2 separate regions of the Homo sapiens genome follow, and region 1 is linked to region 2. Evidence: fine-mapped expression QTL. A gene starts in region 2. The other region holds a variant in brackets. All regions are shown on one strand. Distances are between the middles of the regions. Region 1 holds the start of LOC105371796 (a long non-coding RNA gene). Region 2 holds the start of DCAKD (dephospho-CoA kinase domain containing).

The links.
Region 1: its variant is fine-mapped to the expression of DCAKD in adrenal gland (GTEx, PIP 0.98).

What each region holds. Positions count from the first base shown.
Region 1 is chr17:45,361,075-45,369,404 of GRCh38, reverse strand. It overlaps LOC105371796 (a long non-coding RNA gene), which reads left to right and starts at 2,883. Exons shown (of 3, transcript XR_934786.3): 1 at 2,883-3,546; 2 at 4,625-4,721; 3 at 5,722-6,156. The variant C/T (reference allele first, on the strand shown) is at 4,371.
Region 2 is chr17:45,047,248-45,055,577 of GRCh38, reverse strand. DCAKD (dephospho-CoA kinase domain containing) reads left to right here and starts at 3,946. Exons shown (of 5, transcript NM_001288655.2): 1 at 3,946-4,217. RefSeq lists a silencer at 3,806-4,305 and enhancers at 7,391-7,921, 7,922-8,330.

The sequences.
Region 1 (8,330 bases), 310 kb before region 2:
GTCTCACTCTGTCGCCAAGGCTGGAGTGCAGTGGTGCGATCTCGGCTCACTGTAACCTCCACCTCCCAGGTTCAATCGATTCTTGTGCCTCAGCCTCCTGAGTAGTTGGGACGACAGGCGTGCGCCACCACTCCCGGCTAATTTTTGTATTTTTAGTAGAGATGGTGTTTCACCATGTTGGCCAGGCTAGTCTCAAACTCCTGGCCTCAGGTGATTCACCTGCCTCGACCTCCCGAAGTGCTGAGATTACGAATGTGAGCCACTGCGCTCGGCCAGTTTGTTCCTTTTTATTGCTGAGTAGTATTACACTGAATGGATATTTCACATTTTGTTTATCCAGTTACCAGCTTTTGCATATTTGGATGATTTACAGGGTTTTTAAAATGTACAATGCTGCTATGAGCATTCAGGTCTTTGTGTGGCCACATTTTTACTTCTCTTGGGTAGTTTCTGTTTAACTTTTTAAGCAACTGCCAAGCTGTTTTCCAAAGTGGCTGCATCATGTTACATTCCCAACAGCAATGTATGAGGCTTCCACTTTCTCTACATTCTCCACCACACTTGTTATTATTATCTGTCTTTTTGATTATAGCCATCCTGGTGGGTTTGAAATGGTATCTCATTGTGGTTTTAATTTGCATTTTTCAAATAACAAATTGAAATTGAACATTTTTGTGTGCTTATTAACCATTCTTTTTTATTATTGTTAGGAGAGAGAGGGTTTTCCTCTGTCACCCAGGCTGGAGTGCAGTGGCACAATCATAGCTCACTGCAGCCTTGAGCTTCTGAGCCCAAAAGATCCTCCTGCCTCAGCCTCCTGAGTAGCTGGGACTATAGATACACACCACTATATCGGCTAATTTTTTTTTTTTTTTGTAGAGATGGGGTTTTGCTATGTTGACCAGGCTGGTCTCAAACTCCTGGCCTCAAGCAATCCTCCTGCCTCGGCTCCTGAAGTGCTGGGATTACAGGCATGTGTCACAATATCCTGAGCCATGCCAGCCCATATATTTTCTTTGAAAAAAATGTCTATTAGAGTCTTTCATCTTTTTTTTTTTTTTGCAGCGGGAGTTTTGTGGTGGCGGTGGGGGAGTCTTGCTCTGTTGCCCAGGCTGGAGGGTAGTGGCACAACCTTGACTCACCACAACCTCTGCCACCTGGGTTCAAGCGATTCTCCTGCATCAGCCTCCTAAGTAGCTGGGATTACAGGCGCCTGCCAGCACACCTGGCTAGTTTTTGTAATTTTAGTAGAGATGGGGTTTCACCATGTTGCCCAGGCTGGTCTCAAACTCCTAGCCTCAAGCAATCCACTTGTCTCGGCCTCCCAAAGTGCTGGGATTACAGACATGAGCCACCACGCCTGGGTTGTTTTGTCCATCTTTACATTTAGTTGTTTGTCTTCTTATTATCGAGTTATAAGACATCATTTTAAAAAATAGGTCAGTCATAGTTGATTGTATGCATGGGACGTCATTTGTTTAACTTGTTTCCTATTGATATCTCTTAAAATTTTCGTTTTATACGTATTTTTATAATAGGCATAATATATTAATGCAATAGTTTATGTTCCTGACATAAATAAGCAAATACAATTGGAATACATCCTCAAGTTAGTTTGCTGAGAGGGATCATTAAGGCCTGGTGACCCCTGACCTGAGCCTTCCTCCCCCTCCCCCCTCTCCCCGCCTGCCCCACCCCGTCCATCAGGCCCTTTCTAGCAATCTCAAGGTTTGTAGAAACCTTGTTAAAAGCCCTCTTTCCTGGCAGCCTCTGACCTCCAAAAAGTCTGATTGGGATCCCCTAACTGATGAGGGAGGCTGAGGCTGAGGGAGTCCACCCAGGGTAACATCGGCACGGTCTGAATCACAGGGCTTTCTGGAATGACCCAGAGGCCACCCCTTCCTTAATTTGGGAAGCTCCAGGCTAGAGGACATGATGAGTGTTCATGCTGAGGTTCTCCTGAGTCCAGCAGCGTGAGGCGAGCTCAGAGCCCAGGAGTGTGGTTCGGGATGGTGCTGCCCTCAGCCCCCATGCTGCGTCCTGACCCCCCGCCCATCCATCTGCCCAGCCTGTCAATGTGGACTCACACACACCTGGTGTCACCTCAGAGCAATCCAAAGTAAAAGACCCTGCTGGTCCATGTCTCCCCTCCTGGTGGTTCCTTCATCTCCATTATCTTCTTCTTCATCATCCTCATTGTCACCACGTACTGCAGACATGTCCCATGCCTGTAAGTGACTTCTGGGATACTGTTTAATCCTCCAACAAATCCTACGAGCTGGAGCTTATTAGTTCTCTATTGCAGAAGAGAAAACTGAGGCTCCGGGAGGCTATGGGACTTCTCTGTCCCATCTTAGCAACAGAGGTGGAATCCACAGTCCACACCTTTGACTGGGACATGGCCCTACCCACCCTTCAGGGGCTGAGAACTGGCGCAGACTCAGCCTTCAGCTGATTTTCACCTGATTCTTAGCAGACGTCTTGGAAAAACCTCCTGGTGACATAATAAGAGCAGTGTGGCTCCAGGGTCGGGGAGGAATTTAGGGGGTGAGAATTGGGGGTGCCCCCCCTTGCCCTGAGCCAGGGCAGCTGCAGAGAAAGTACTATTCAGGGCAGGGCAGGAATGGACCCTGGAGAGCCTGAGGGTCCCACAGGGAGAGCACGCTGTCTACCCCCAGCACAGCCCCCGCCTCTCCTGGGGCTCAGCAGGCAGAGGGGAGAGGGCAGGTTCAGCCCAGAGAAGAGGGACTGTCACAGGTACCAAGCTTGTCTACTTTGGCAGGAGAAAGCTAAGGTCTGTAATCACACTTTCTGTTTTCACTTTTCTTCCATTTCTGAGTAAGCATTTCTATTGGAAAACTCCAGACTTGTCTGAGCTCAACGAAAGGAAAAGGGATCTGTGGGCACCCAGAGCAGGCCAGGGGTGGGGGTGGGGAGCCGGGCCCCTGAGTGGGTAGTATGCGTTTCCAGGGGCTCAGATCTGATGATCCCATCCTTGGCTCCACAAATTCAATCCATGCCCCTTAGCTTGGCATTCGAGGCCTTTCCTTCATCTGGCTTCAGCCCCTGCTTCTCTCTGGCTTACATCCAGGTTTCTGCTCACATTGTTCCCTATGCCCACAATGCCCTTTCCTCCCATCCTAAGAGATCCAATGCCCAAACTCTGGTCATCCTTCAAGGCCCAGCCCAGATGCCTCCTCCTCCATGAAGCCTTCCTTGACCCCCTCAGCTGGACATGACATCTCCCTCTTCTGAATTCCCACAGCCCTTGGTTCATACTTCTCTGAGGGCGTATTCCATTCTCCCACCAGCAGCAGACCTTGGTTGTGACCCTACCCAGCATCCTTCCTCCTTCTGATCAAAACACTCCAATATTCCATGAGAAATATCTGTCGCCCACCTTCAGACATGTGGTCCAGAAGAAGCTGATTCCACTCCCAGGATCCAGAGAGGCTCATAAGGCCCAGGCCTCGAAGTCGGAGTAGCCCATCTTTTCTCCTACCCCCTCCACTTCTGAACCCTGTGCTTGCTATGGGATCAGTTCAGGTATGGGGCTGTGACTCAGTCACAGCCAGAGCTATATCAGGGCTTTTTTCCTCTTTCTTTCTTTCTTTCTTTCTTTCTTTCTTTCTTTCTTTCTTTCTTTCTTTCTTTCTTCCTTCCTTCCTTCCTTCCTTCCTTTCTTTCTTTCTTTCTTCCTTTCTTTCTTTCTTTCCTTCTTTCTTTCTTCCTTTCTTTCTCTCTCTTTCTTTCTTCTTTCTTTCTTTCTTTTTTTAATTTATTTATTATTATTATACTTTAAGTTTTAGGGTACATGTGCACAATGTGCAGGTTAGTTACATATGTATACATGTGCCATGCTGGTTCATTCTTTCTTTCTTTCTTTCTTTCCCTTTTTTTTTTTTTTTTTGTTTTGTTGTTGTTTTTTGAGACAGAGTCACCCTCTGTCGCCCAGGCTGGAGTACAGTGGTGTGATCTCACTGCAACCTCCGCCTCCCAGGTTCAGGTGATTTTCCTGCCTCAGCGTCCTGGGTAGCTGGGATTACAGGCGCATGCCACCACACCCAGCTAATTTTTGTATTTTTAATAGAGACAGGGTTTCACCATGTTGGCCAGGCTGGTCTCAAACTCCTGACCTCAAGTGATCCGCCCACCTCAGCCTCTCAAAGTGCTGGGATTACAGACGTGAGCCACCGCGCCCAGCCTCTCTATAGATCTTACTCTGGCCCTGGGTTCACGTCACTTGCAAGTGAAAAATCCCTGACTGCTATTTATTCCTTTGCTCTGTTTCTCTGCAGCTAATGTCCTACTTGGACCTGCAGGATGGAGGCTCCTGGAAGTCAGGTGCCATGATCTCTTGCCTTTGTGCT[C/T]CCACAGCACCAAGCACAGGGCCAGCCGCACAGAAAGTTTCCACGAGGGTTTGTAGAACCGTCTGTGGGAGGAGTGAACACGCTGGCTGTCCTGGCCCTCCCCACCCCAACCAGGAGCCCATCTCGGGCCTGGGACTCTCCACCTTCTCCCCAGACCTGACCTGGCAGTGGACAGCCCAGACTGGAGCTTCCTGCCTGCCACACTGGCTCTCCAGTCAGCAGAGGCCAGAAAGTGGTGATTTCCTGTATTGCAGGATCAGATGGCAGAATCGCAAGAGCTCCGCATCCCCAGGGACTCATCTGAAAGACAATGTGAAGCAAAGACAATGTGAGGCGTGGGGAGACTTCCAGGTACTTGGTTGCATCTGGGGAGGGGCCAGTGGTGTCTGAGCTTTAGCTTCTGGAAGCCGGCTGCTGCGGGGTGGAGACAGAGGGGCTGTGCCAGAGAGGGAACAGCTCTAGAAACCAGCAACAGGGAGAAGTTTGATGCAGGGCAGAGGGGAACCTGGGATGGGAGGCTGGGCAAGGGGCTCCTGCTCCCCAGGGGGCTGATGAAGACCCTTGGTGTTCTCCCACCTGCCTCTGGGAGCTTGTGGTGTTTTTGTTGTTGTGTTTTGGTGTTTTGTTTTGTTTTGAGACTGGACTGAGTCTCACTTTGTCGCCCAGGCTGGAATGCAGTGGTGCAATCTTGGCTCACTAAAACCTCCACCTCCCAGGTTCAAGTGATTCTCCTGCCTCAGCCTCCTGAGTAGCTGGGATTATAGCGCCCGCCACCACGCCCAGCTAATTTTTATATTTTTAGTAGAGATGGGGTTTCACCATATTGGCCAGGCTGGTCTCGAACTCCTGACCTCAAGTGATCCGCCCACCTTGGCCTCCCAAAGTGCTGGGATTACAGACGTGAGCCACTGCGCCCAGCTGGGAACTTGTGTTTTAGAAAGTCCTTCAGTTCCATCCTTACTCTGGAGCACTGTAAAGTTTATAAAACAAAATGTCTGAGAGCACCACCTTGTTAGTAACCAACTGAGTGGAACCCTACTCTATCTAGTGTCCTGTTCTGGTGTATTGGTCAGGAGAGGCTATAGTGTGCTGAGGTAAACATTGACCTCCAAATCTTAGCGGCTTCTTGATGCAACAAAGGTGTATTTTTCTCGTTCACACAAAACTGCTGCAGGTTGGGTAACTGTCCAGGTTAGCTGTCCCTTGTACAGGCTACTTCCTTCTAGTGGCTCTACCATTTCAAACCATGGCATCTGTGGTTGCCACTAAAGGCCAAGAGAGAACAGGAGGGTTGGACAGCAGCACTTCAGTGTTTCGGTCCAGAAATGACACCTGTCACTTCCATTCACAGCCTGTTGGTCAGAGTTTGCCTCATGACCCCACCCTGACTGCACGGAAGGCTGGGAAGTGTGGAGGAGGACATGAGTAGTCAATGAGCATTGAGTGCCTCTGCCATGCTGGGTATCCCAGGGGAAGAGGAGACACAGGCACAGAGGACTGGAGGACTTTGAGGCTGGATATCTAGGTTCAAACCCAAGCTCTTCTAGAATGACTAGAAGCTATGTGACCTTGGGAAAATTACTAAATGTCTCTGAGTCTTGCTTTTCTCCTGTGCCAAACGGGGATAAAATAAGAGTTCCTACCTCACGAGGTTGTTGGGAAGATAAATCAGACCATGCTTATAAAAAGAGCTAGTGGTGCCCAGCACAAGGTTGGCATTTGTATTAGTCTGCTTTCACGCTGCTAATAAAGACATATCCAAGACTGGGTAATTTATAAAGAAAAAGAGGTTTAATGGACTCACAATTCTACGTGGCTGGGGAGGCCTCACAATCATGATGGAAGGCAAAAGGCATGTCTTACATGGTGGCAGGCAAAAAGAGAATGAGGGAAGCAAGTGAAAGGGGTTTCCCCTTGTACAACCATCAGCTCTCATGAGACTTATTCACTGTCATTTGAACAGTATGGGAGAAACCGCCCCCGTGATTCAATGATCTCCCACCGGGTCCCTCCCAAAACACGTGGGAATTATGGAAGCTACAAATCAAAATGAGATTTGGTTGGGGACACAGCCAAACCATATCAGCATTTAATAAGTGGACACTATTTGATTAGTCTGTTTAGAAAAAGTTGAAGATGCTCAACATATGACTGAAAAATAGAGCTAATTGAAAAATATAGCCAAAGCCTCCCTTTCAATAGCTGGCTCCCTTGTCTGCCCCTGCCCAGGGTCCCCTTGCTCTCCTTCCCTCCCCTCTGCAAGGACTTATAAGGATCCCCCAGTCAACCACTCCCCTGTGTGCGAGAAGATCTGCCCTCTCCCCCAGGGTGCATGTATCTGAAGTCTTAGTGTTGGGTACACGCATCTGAAGTCTTGGTGTTGATCGTGGGGAGAAAACCTTGGTGCTCTGTTGAAGAATACCAAACATTAGCAAGCAGATGAGAGAGGGGCACATATGTTCTCCAAACAGTGCTCCTACTTGTGTTTATGGCAAACAGGGTGCCCAGAGAATGGAAGATGCTGAGATCCTTGAAAAGTGTCTTGGAGGAGGTCAGGTTTAGGCAAGCGACTAGAAGGAGGGGGACCCCGGGTGGCTGAGGGAGGAGGGAGGGGCTGGAAAAGAGCCTGTAACAACCTCAGCAATGGAGGAGACAGTAAGAAACCATGCTGGTGATGGAGTGGGAGATAACTCTTCACATCCAGAGAGCTCTGCACAGTTTAAAAGTAAGGCCACCTGACTGGTGAAAACTCAACAGAGCTCAGTGGCAGGGAGAGCAACATCTGAACTCTCCTTTCCAGTGTTGCTGTCACTGGGAAGCAGTTGCCGAGCCAGGGACCACATTTCCCAGGCCCCCTTGGCCCCATGCCACGTTCTTGCCAATGGAATGGGAGCAGAAGTAACGTGTGTCACTTCCAGGCCAAGGCTTTTGAGGAGTGGTTATGCCTTTCATGGGGTCTCTTTCCCCTCCTATTAAATGAGTGTAGAAGATGATAGTTAGACCAGGCGGTGGTAGGGCCTCAAAATGGAAAAAGCCTGGTCTCTAAATCACTGCATGGGGGAAGGTCACCTGCAAACCAAGAACATCTGCAATGAACTGGTAAATAAGTGGGAAATAAACAAAATATATTTGGGGGTTTATTTGTTGTAGCAACTAGCATTGTCTTGAAGCATGGTGAGTACATCTTTCTTTGAAGGGGCTTCTGGGGCACTGTGAGGGGTACGGAGGGATGAAAGCCCCCTTTGGCACTGCCACTGCTCCTCCCCCAATGGTCCTCTTGCTTCACAAGGGGGAAGCTCTCTTGCTCTCCTTCCTTCCTTCTCCACCCACATTCTTCCCAACAAGACAGGGACAGGACCCAGCATGGGTGGAGTTTTGGACATCCAGTTTGGACATTCTTATTTCTTAAGAATCCTTCCTCAGAGCATGAGTTGGAAGTTTTGGCACTTTTGAGAGATGTGACCAGCTGACTCTATAACTGGGTGGGGCAACATGGGAAAACGAGATGGAGAGACCACCAAGGGAGGCAGTCAATGGAAGGGAGCGGAAAGGAAAGCCAGGCCAGGAGCTTGGATGTGATTTTTTTTTTTTTTTGAGACGGAGTCTCGCACTGTTGCCCAGGCGGGAATCCAGTGGTACAATCTGCACTCACTGCAATATCCGCCTCCCCAGTTTAAGCGATTCTCCTGCCTCAGCCTCCCAAGTAGCTGGGATTGCAGGCACCTGCCACCACGACCAGCTAATTTTTGTATTTTTAGTAGAGACAGGGTTTCGCCAGGGTTGGCCAGGCTGGTCTCGAACTACCGACCTCAAGTGATCCACCCATCTTGGCCTTCCAAATTGCTGGGATTACAGGTGTGAGCTACTGCATCTGTCCTGGCTATGATATTTTGAGTAAAGGGAAGTCCAGGTGTTTCAGACCCCATCTCCTCCCTGCAGGCTGAGCCAGCTAAGCAAGGA
Region 2 (8,330 bases):
TGGCAATGAGAATGATATGACTTAGGACTGGAGCTTAGAAAGTGAGGAGTGTGTGCCTGTGGTTCCAGCTATTCAGTGGGAGGCTGAGATGGGAGGATCACTTGAGCCTGGGAGGCAGAGGTCACAGTGAGCCAAGATCGTGCCACTGCACTAACCTGGGTAACAGAGTGAGACCCTGTCTCAAAAATAAATAAATAAATAAATAAATAAATAAACGTACAGAAAATAAATTTAAAACCAGGAGCCAAAGGAGTCATCTCTAATGGACTCAGGGTTGTTCATCAAACAAAATGAGAAGCAGAACTGTATTCCAGGCATCATGCTAAATGCTAAGGACACAGAGGTGACTGAGATGCAGGCCACTCTCAGGATAAAATGAGATTGTGTAAGTAGCTACAGCCAGCTCAAAGTTTCTTATTGCCATCCTGAATCATGAAAGACATATATTTGAGCTGAAAAAGCCCTTGATGGCATCACATGGAAACTCCAAAGCCCAAGTTTCATTATGGAGGAGGTGCCTGGGTTGAAGGCCCTGTAGCAGCCCTTCACCCTTTCCTATGGGATCTTCCTGGGGCAGAGGTGCAGCTGCTTTTGGCAAATCGGACCACAAGGATACCTCCTTGGAAGACAAGGCTCTCACTTGTACATGAATAGTTATAATACTGTAAGGCAGTATCTGAGAAAAGTAGGGTCATCTGGACGGTTTCCTAACACTGTGTCCCAGGAAGATCCAGATAATTTGGGGGGACAGGCCAGGCCTGTTCCTATCCCTGTCTTGGCCAGCCATGATTACTGGTGGGAGTCTGGGTATCCCTTGGATGTGTCAGGAGTAGGGAAAAGGGTGAGAACCACAGGATTAGGTTAGCTATACATTGTTTGATCAAGGAAGGGAATTGAGCCATTAAATCTGGCTCTATAAAATAGAATTAGATTTGTTCTGTATGGCCCCACGGTTTAAAACTAGGAGAGATACTGCCTAAGAAAGAACTTTCTAACTGCCAAGACTGGACTTGAAAAAATAACAACTGTCAGCCAGGTGTGGTGGCTCACACCTGTAATCCCAGCACTTTGGGAGGCTGAGGCAGGCAGATCGCCTGAGGTTGGGAGTTCGAGACCAGCATGGCCAGCATGGTGAAACCCCATCTCTACTAAAAATGTAAAAATTAGCCTGGCATGGTGGCAGGCACCTGTAATCCCAGCTACTAGGGAAGCTGAGGCAGGAGAATCACTTGAACCCGGGAGGCGGAGGTTGCAGTGAGCTGAGATCACGCCATTGTACTCCAGCCTAGGCAACAGAGCCAGACTCTGTCTCAAAAAAAAAAATAAATAAAACTGTCTTGAGTGGCAGTGAGTTCCCCAACATGGGACATGTACATGTATACATGGCAGAGATAATGTGGAAGAGATTCAAATACTGGCAGGGTGTTTGTACCAAATGGCCCTTTTGGACACAAGATGGAATCCTTTTTATTGGGTGATGGCAGTAGGTCTCCTTGACTGTTGAAGTCAGGAAGAAAGCTTTCAGGGACTCAGGTGATCTGAGAAAGATGTTAAATTACTTAATTCCTCAATATACTGAATCCCTACTGTGCAGGGCACTGGGTATTGTAGTAGTAGATAGGCAAGATTCCTACCTTAAAGGAAGTAGAGAATAGAGATACAGTTTAAGGAAAGGGAAGGGAGACAGGGTAGGTGTTAATTAAAAACTTCCTGCTGGTGAGGCACCGTGGCTCATGCCTATAATCCCAGCACTTTGGGAGGCCGAGGTGGGTGGATCACCTGAGGTCAGGAGTTTGAGACCAGCCTGGCTAACATGCCAAACCCCATCTCTACTAGAAATACAAAAATTAGCCAGATGTGCTGGGCATGGTGGCTGACGCCTGTAATCCTAGCACTTTGGGAGGCCGAGGTGGGTGGATCACCTAGGTCAGGATTTCCAGACCAGCCCGGCCAACGTGGTGAAACCCCATCTCTACTAAAAATACAAAATTAGCCGAGTGTGGTGGTACATGCCTGTAATCCTAGCTACTTGGGAGGCTGAGGCAGGAGAATCGCTTGAACCCGGGAGGTAGAGGTTGCAGTGAGCCGAGATCATGCCACTGCACTCCAGCCTGGGCAACAAGAGCAAAACTCCATCTCAAAAGCAAAACAAATTAGCTGGATGTGGTGGCGCACACCTCTAGTCCCAGCTACTCGGGAAGCTGTGGCAGGAGAATCGCTTGAACCTGGGAGGCAGAGGCTGCAGTGAGCCAAGATCCTGCCACTGCACCCCAGCCTGGGCAATAGAGCGAAACTCTGTCTCAACAAACAAACAAACAAACCAAACAAAAAAAAAACAAAAACAACTTCCTGCTATATGTGAGGCATAACTAGATAACTAGTTTTTTTTTTTTTTTTTTTTTTTTTTTAACTGGAGACAGAGTCTTGCTGTAGTCTCCCAGGCTGGAGTGCAGTGACCGGATCTTGGGCTCACTGCAACCTCCACCTCCCGGGTTCAAGCAATCCTCCTGCCTCAGCCTCCCGTGTAGCTGGGATTACAGGCATTCACCACCACGCCCGGCTAATTTTGTATTTTTAGTAGAGACGGGATTTTGCCATGTTGGCCAGGCTGGTCTCAAACTCCTGACCTCAGGTGATCCACCCGCCTTGGCCTCCCAAAGTGCTGGGATTACAGGCGTGAGCCACAGCGCCCGGCCTAGATGCTTTATTTTTTTTGAGGCAAGGTCTCGTTTTGTTGCCCAGGCTGGAGTGCAGTGGTACCATCATGGCTCTCTGCAGCCTTGACCTCCTGGGCTCAAGCCATCCTCCTGCCTCAGCCTCCCGAGTAAATGAGACCACACTGTCACCATGCCTGGCTAGTTTGTTTTTTGTTTTTTTTTTTTGTAGAGATCGGGGGTTAGTCTCACTCTTGTTTAGGCTGGTCTCGAACTCCTGGGCTCAAGTGATCCTCCCAAAGTGCTGAGATTACAGGTGTGAGCCACCGTGCCCGGCTTTTATGTATTCTTTCAACAACGCTGCACGGCTGCGATTATCCCCACTTTGAGAGGAGACAGGATGAGAGGCTGAGTGGCTTGCTAGGCTTGTATGGACAGGATGCGGGCTCTGCAATCACATGACTTTGTATGAGAGGGCAAATGGATTAACCGCTAAACATAGTTTCCTGTTGTGTAAAATGGGGATGATGATAGTATCCACCCTGCGGACTGTGCGGGCTGAGATAATCCCACAAAGTGCTCTTAGGACCTGGCAGGTGGAAAGTGCTCATGATCACCTCTGCCAAGGCTGCACAAGTAGCGAGTGGCCGAGCTTTATATCCGAAGTTAGGACCCTGCAGTTTTGCCCCTCTCCTCTCTCTCCCTCTCCTTCCCGGCTCCGGGGAAAGGAAAATTTATGGCTCCGGGTCGGGGGTTGCGGGGGACCTCTGTGCCGTGCTCCGGGGCCGAGCTCTCCCCGCCGGCCTCTCCCGCGTCCGTCCGGCCGCCCTCCCGCCCAACCTCTCCCGCCCAACCTCTCCCGCGTCCGCCCGCCCGCCCAACCTCTCCCGCGTCCGCCCGCCCGCCCAACCTCTCCCGCGTCCGCCCGCCCGCCCAACCTCTCCCGCGTCCGCCCGCCCGCCCAACCTCTCCCGCGTCCGCCCGCCCGCCCAACCTCTCCCGCGTCCGCCCGCCCGCCCAACCTCTCCCGCGTCCGCCCGCCCGCCCAACCTCTCCCGGCCCCGCCCGCCCGCCCGCCCAACCTCTCCCGGCCCCGCCCGCCCGCCCGCCCAACCTCTCCCGGCCCCGCCCGCCCGCCCGCCCAACCTCTCCCGGCCCCGCCCGCCCGCCCGCCCAACCTCTCCCGGCCCCGCCCGCCCACCCAACCTCTCCCGGCCCCGCCCGTCCAACCTCTCCCGGCCCCGCCTGCTGGCCGGACGTCCGGTCTGCAGGCGCGCGCTCCCGAGGTCCCGCCTCGCCCGCTGAGCCGGCCTGTAAGCGCTGCGGAGATTGGGCTAGAGGCGGAGGCCTGGGCCACGGCGGAGGCGCTGGGTACGTAGCGCGCCACGCGGGCCGGTGAGAGCCAGCCGGGCGCCGGGGAGGGGGCGGGCCCTGGCCGCGGCTGCTACGCGGGGCTGCCACCGCCCCGGGCGACCCAATTTCGCGGCCTAGTGGGGCGTACGGGCCTCTTTTGAAAGCCTGAGTTACGATGTATTGAGCGCGTCGTATGCGGCCAGCACTAAGGCAAGTGCTTTTATATCCACGGCCCATTGTCTTGACAGCAACCCTACCAAGCAACGTGTTATTTCCTCTGTTTTACGGCTGAGGACGCGCAGGAAGGTTTACAGCTAGAAAGGGCTGGAGATTGTGGATTCAAACTCAGGATCAGACCAAAGCCACTGCCCTTTAGAACTTTGCGGGCCGATTGATTCTTGAATCTAGCTTCTGCCACTTCAGTTGTGTGACCTTGGGGTATCTTTCCGATCCCAAGTTTGCTCATCTGAAAAATGGGAATAAAGCTACAGTATCTGTCCCATAGGGTGGGTATAAAGTGCTTTACTGTTGAGCTGAGTGATCATCTCCGATTTTCAGACCCCTCTCCTCCGCTTCCCTCTCCCCTGGGAGGCCAGTTAAGGTTTTAGTGAAGGCCCCCGGGACTGGGGCGGCGTGGATCTCACGCCCACCAACTAGTGAGGGAGGCCATCCGGCCACCCGTCTCTTCCTTCCCCAGCTCCGCAAAGGAGGCGTTGGCATTTCAGGTGTTTGCTTACAGAGTTTTCAAAGATTTTTCACTCTCCCTTAGTTGTGGGAAAATGATTCAACCTACCCAAGTGAACTTTGACATTAAGTCTCAATTCTAACGGTGAGGAAATGGAAGCCTTTGAATATGTTTTATGTCTTAAACGTGTTTGTTTTTGCAGGAGGGAGAGTGCTCATTTTACCTGAATAAATCAAGATTGAGTTGGTGTGGCACAGTGCTGGCATAGGCCTGGGGAAAGGGGTGAAATGCTAGAGATCTGGTAGATGGATAGAAAGTGGACAGACGGGTTCGGGTGGTTTTTGTCTCAGCAGGGCCCTAAATTCCCACCAAATCCTCCTCTGTCTGTCTTCACCAAGGTCTGAATCTGTCCCCTTGGTAAATAACGTTTAAATGGTCTCCGAGCCCCTCTTGGTGCCTGTACCTTAAGGAGAGAAGAAGAGGGCTGATAGCTGAAGGCAGGCAAGCCACGAACTTAGCTTTGTTTTGAAAATTACCCTCTGGGCCGGGCACGGTGGCTCACGCCTGTAATCCCAGCGCTTTGGTAGGTTGAGGAGGGTGGATCACCCGAGGTTAGGAGTTCGAGACCAGCCTGGTCAACATGGTGAAACCCCCGTGTCAACTAAAAATGCAAAAAAATTAGCCGGACATGGTGGTGCATGCCTGTAGTCCCAGCTACTCGGGAGGCTGAGGCAGAAAAATCGCTTGAACCCGGGAGGCTGAGGTTGCAGTGAGCCGAGATCGTGCCACTGCACTCCAGCCTGGGCAAGAGAGTGAGACTCCTTCTCAAAAGAAAGAAAGAAAGAAAAAATTACCTGCTGGGAGGCCGAGCGCGGTGGCTCACGCCTGGTAATCCCAGTATTTTGGGAGGCTGAGGCAGGCAGATCACCTGAGGTCAGGAGTTTGAGACCAGCCTGGCCAACATGGTGAAACTCCATCTCTACTAAAAATACAAAAAAATTAGCTGGGTGTGGTGGCGGGTGCCTGCAATCCCAGCTACTCAGGAGGTCGAGGTAGGAGAATCACTTGAACTCAGGAAGCAGAGGTTGCAGTGAGCTGAGATCGTGCCACTGCACTCCAGCCTGGGTGACAAGAGCAAGACTCTGTTTCAAAAAAAAAAAAAAAAAAAAAAAGGAAAAGAAAAAGAAAATTACCTGCTGGCACAGTTTTAGATTGATAGCTTTAGATTGAAACTTTCACATTTTTATTTTGAAGATTACAGAGGATAAAAGTTCTGGTTAATTGTGAATGTTGATATTTTAAAATAAAGCTGTTAAAATCCTCATTTAAACCTGCAGTGAAGTCTAAATATACACCATTTGATTTGATTTCCCTCATCTTTTGAAAAAAAAAAAAAGAACCACTTTTTATTTAACCATCGAAATTTCAAATCGTTCTTTTTTTCCTTTATTTTTTCCGAGATGGGATCTTGCTCTGTTGCTCAAGCTGGAGTGCAGTGGCAGTCACTGGTTACTGCACCCTTGACCTGCTGAGCTCAATCCTCCCACCTTAGCCACCAAAGTAACTAAGAGTACGGGTGTCTGTCACCACATATGGCTGATTTTTCTTTTTATTTTTAGTAGAGACGAGGTCTTGCTATGTTGCCCCGGCTGACTCCTGGTCTCAAGTGATCCTTGCATCTCAGCCTCCAAAAGTGCTGGGATTAGAGGTGTAAGCCACCATGCTTGGCCCTTTTTCCTTCTTGAACTCATATTTCCACTTTGTTTCCTCACAGAAGTTTTTTCTAATGTAATAGTTTTTGTTTTTTTGAGACAGGGTCTCTGTCACCCAGGCTGTAGTGCAGTGGCGGGATCACAGCTCACTGCAGCCTTGACCTCTTGGGCTCAAGCAATACTCCCACCTTAGCTTCCCCAGTAGCTGGGACTGCAGGCTTTCGCCACCATGCTCAGCCAATTTTTTTTTTCCAAATGAAAGCAAGATTATTAGGAAAATAATGGAATAAAGAATGGCTACACCATAGGCAGAACAGCCCTTGTGCTGCTGGTTGGCTATTTTTATGGTTCTTTCTTTCTTTTTGAGACAGAGTCTGTCTCACTCTGTCACCCAGGCTGGAGTGCAGTGGCGCAGTCTTGGCTCACTGCAGCCTCTACCTCCTAGGTTCAAATGCTTCTCAAGCCTCAGCCTCCTGAGTAGCTGGGATTACAGGTGCATGCCACCACGCCTGGCTAATTTTTGTTTTGTTTTTCTTTGAGATGGAGTCTCGCTCTGTCACCCAGGCTGGAGTGCAGTGGCACGATCTCGGCTTACTGCAACGTCTGCCTCCCGGTTTCAAGCGATTCTTCTGCCTCAGCCTCCTGAGTAGCTGGGACTATGGGCATGTACCACCATGCCTGGCTATTTTTGTATTTTTAGTAGAGACGGGGTTTCACCATATTGGCCAGGCAGGTCTCAAACTCCTGACCTCGTGATCCGCCCTCGGCCTCCCAAAGTGCTGGGATTACAGGCATGAGCCAACATGCCTGGCCTAATTTTTGTATTATTAGTAGAGATGGGCTTTTGCCATATTGGCCAGGCAGGCTGGTCTCAAACTCCTGGCCTCAAGTGATCTGCCTCCCAGAGTGCTGGGATTCCAGCTAATTTTTTTTTTTTTCCATTTTTTTGTAGAGACAGAGTCTCACTATGTTGCCCAGGCTGGTCTTGAACTCCTGGCCTCAAGTGATCCTCCTGCCTTGACTTCCCAAAGTGCTGGGATTATATGCATGAGATACTGTGCCTGACCATGTAATAATACATTTTATGCCTGAAAGCCTTTGGTTTATCATATTTCTCTGCAACAAAAATACATACAAAATTAAAACTTTTTTAAAATTGTGTTATCATGAGTATTAAATGTTTCTTTTGGATTGAGTTGTCACAATTATAAAATACACAATTGATAAAAACAATGTTAACAAAGTTTTATTTGAGTATTTCTCTTAATAAGCTAAGTGGGCCGGGTGTGGTGGCTTATGCTTGTAGTCTCAACATTTTGGGAGGCCAAAGCAGGCAGATTACTTGAGCTCAGGTGTTTGAGACTAGCCAGGGGCCAGACGCGGTGGCTCACGCCTGTAAACCCAGCACTTTGGGAGGCCAAGGTGGGCGGATCACAAGGTCACAAGTTCAAGACCAGCCTGACCAACATGCCGAAACCCCGTCTGTACTAAAGATACAAAAATTAGCTGGGTGTGGTGGCGTGTGCCTGTAATCCCAGCTACTGGGGAGGCTGAGGCAGGAGAATCATTTGAACCGGGAGCCGGAGGTTGCAGTGAGCCAAGATCGCGCCACTGCATTCCAGCCTGGGCAACAGGGTGAGACTCCATCTCAAAAAAAAAAAAAAAAAAAGAGACTAGCCAGGGCAACCCAGCAAAACCTCATCTCTACAAAAAATTTTTAAAAATTAGCCGGGCGTGTTGGTGCATGCCTGTAGTCCCAGCTACTTGGGAGGCTGAAGTGGCAGGATCACCTGAGCCTAGGAGGGTTGAAACTTCACTGAGCTGTGATCACACCACTGCATTCCAGCCTAGACAATGGAGTAAGACTCTGCCTCGAAAAAAATAAGCTGGGTGGAGCTTTTTAAACCTCATGTATCTATCCATGTT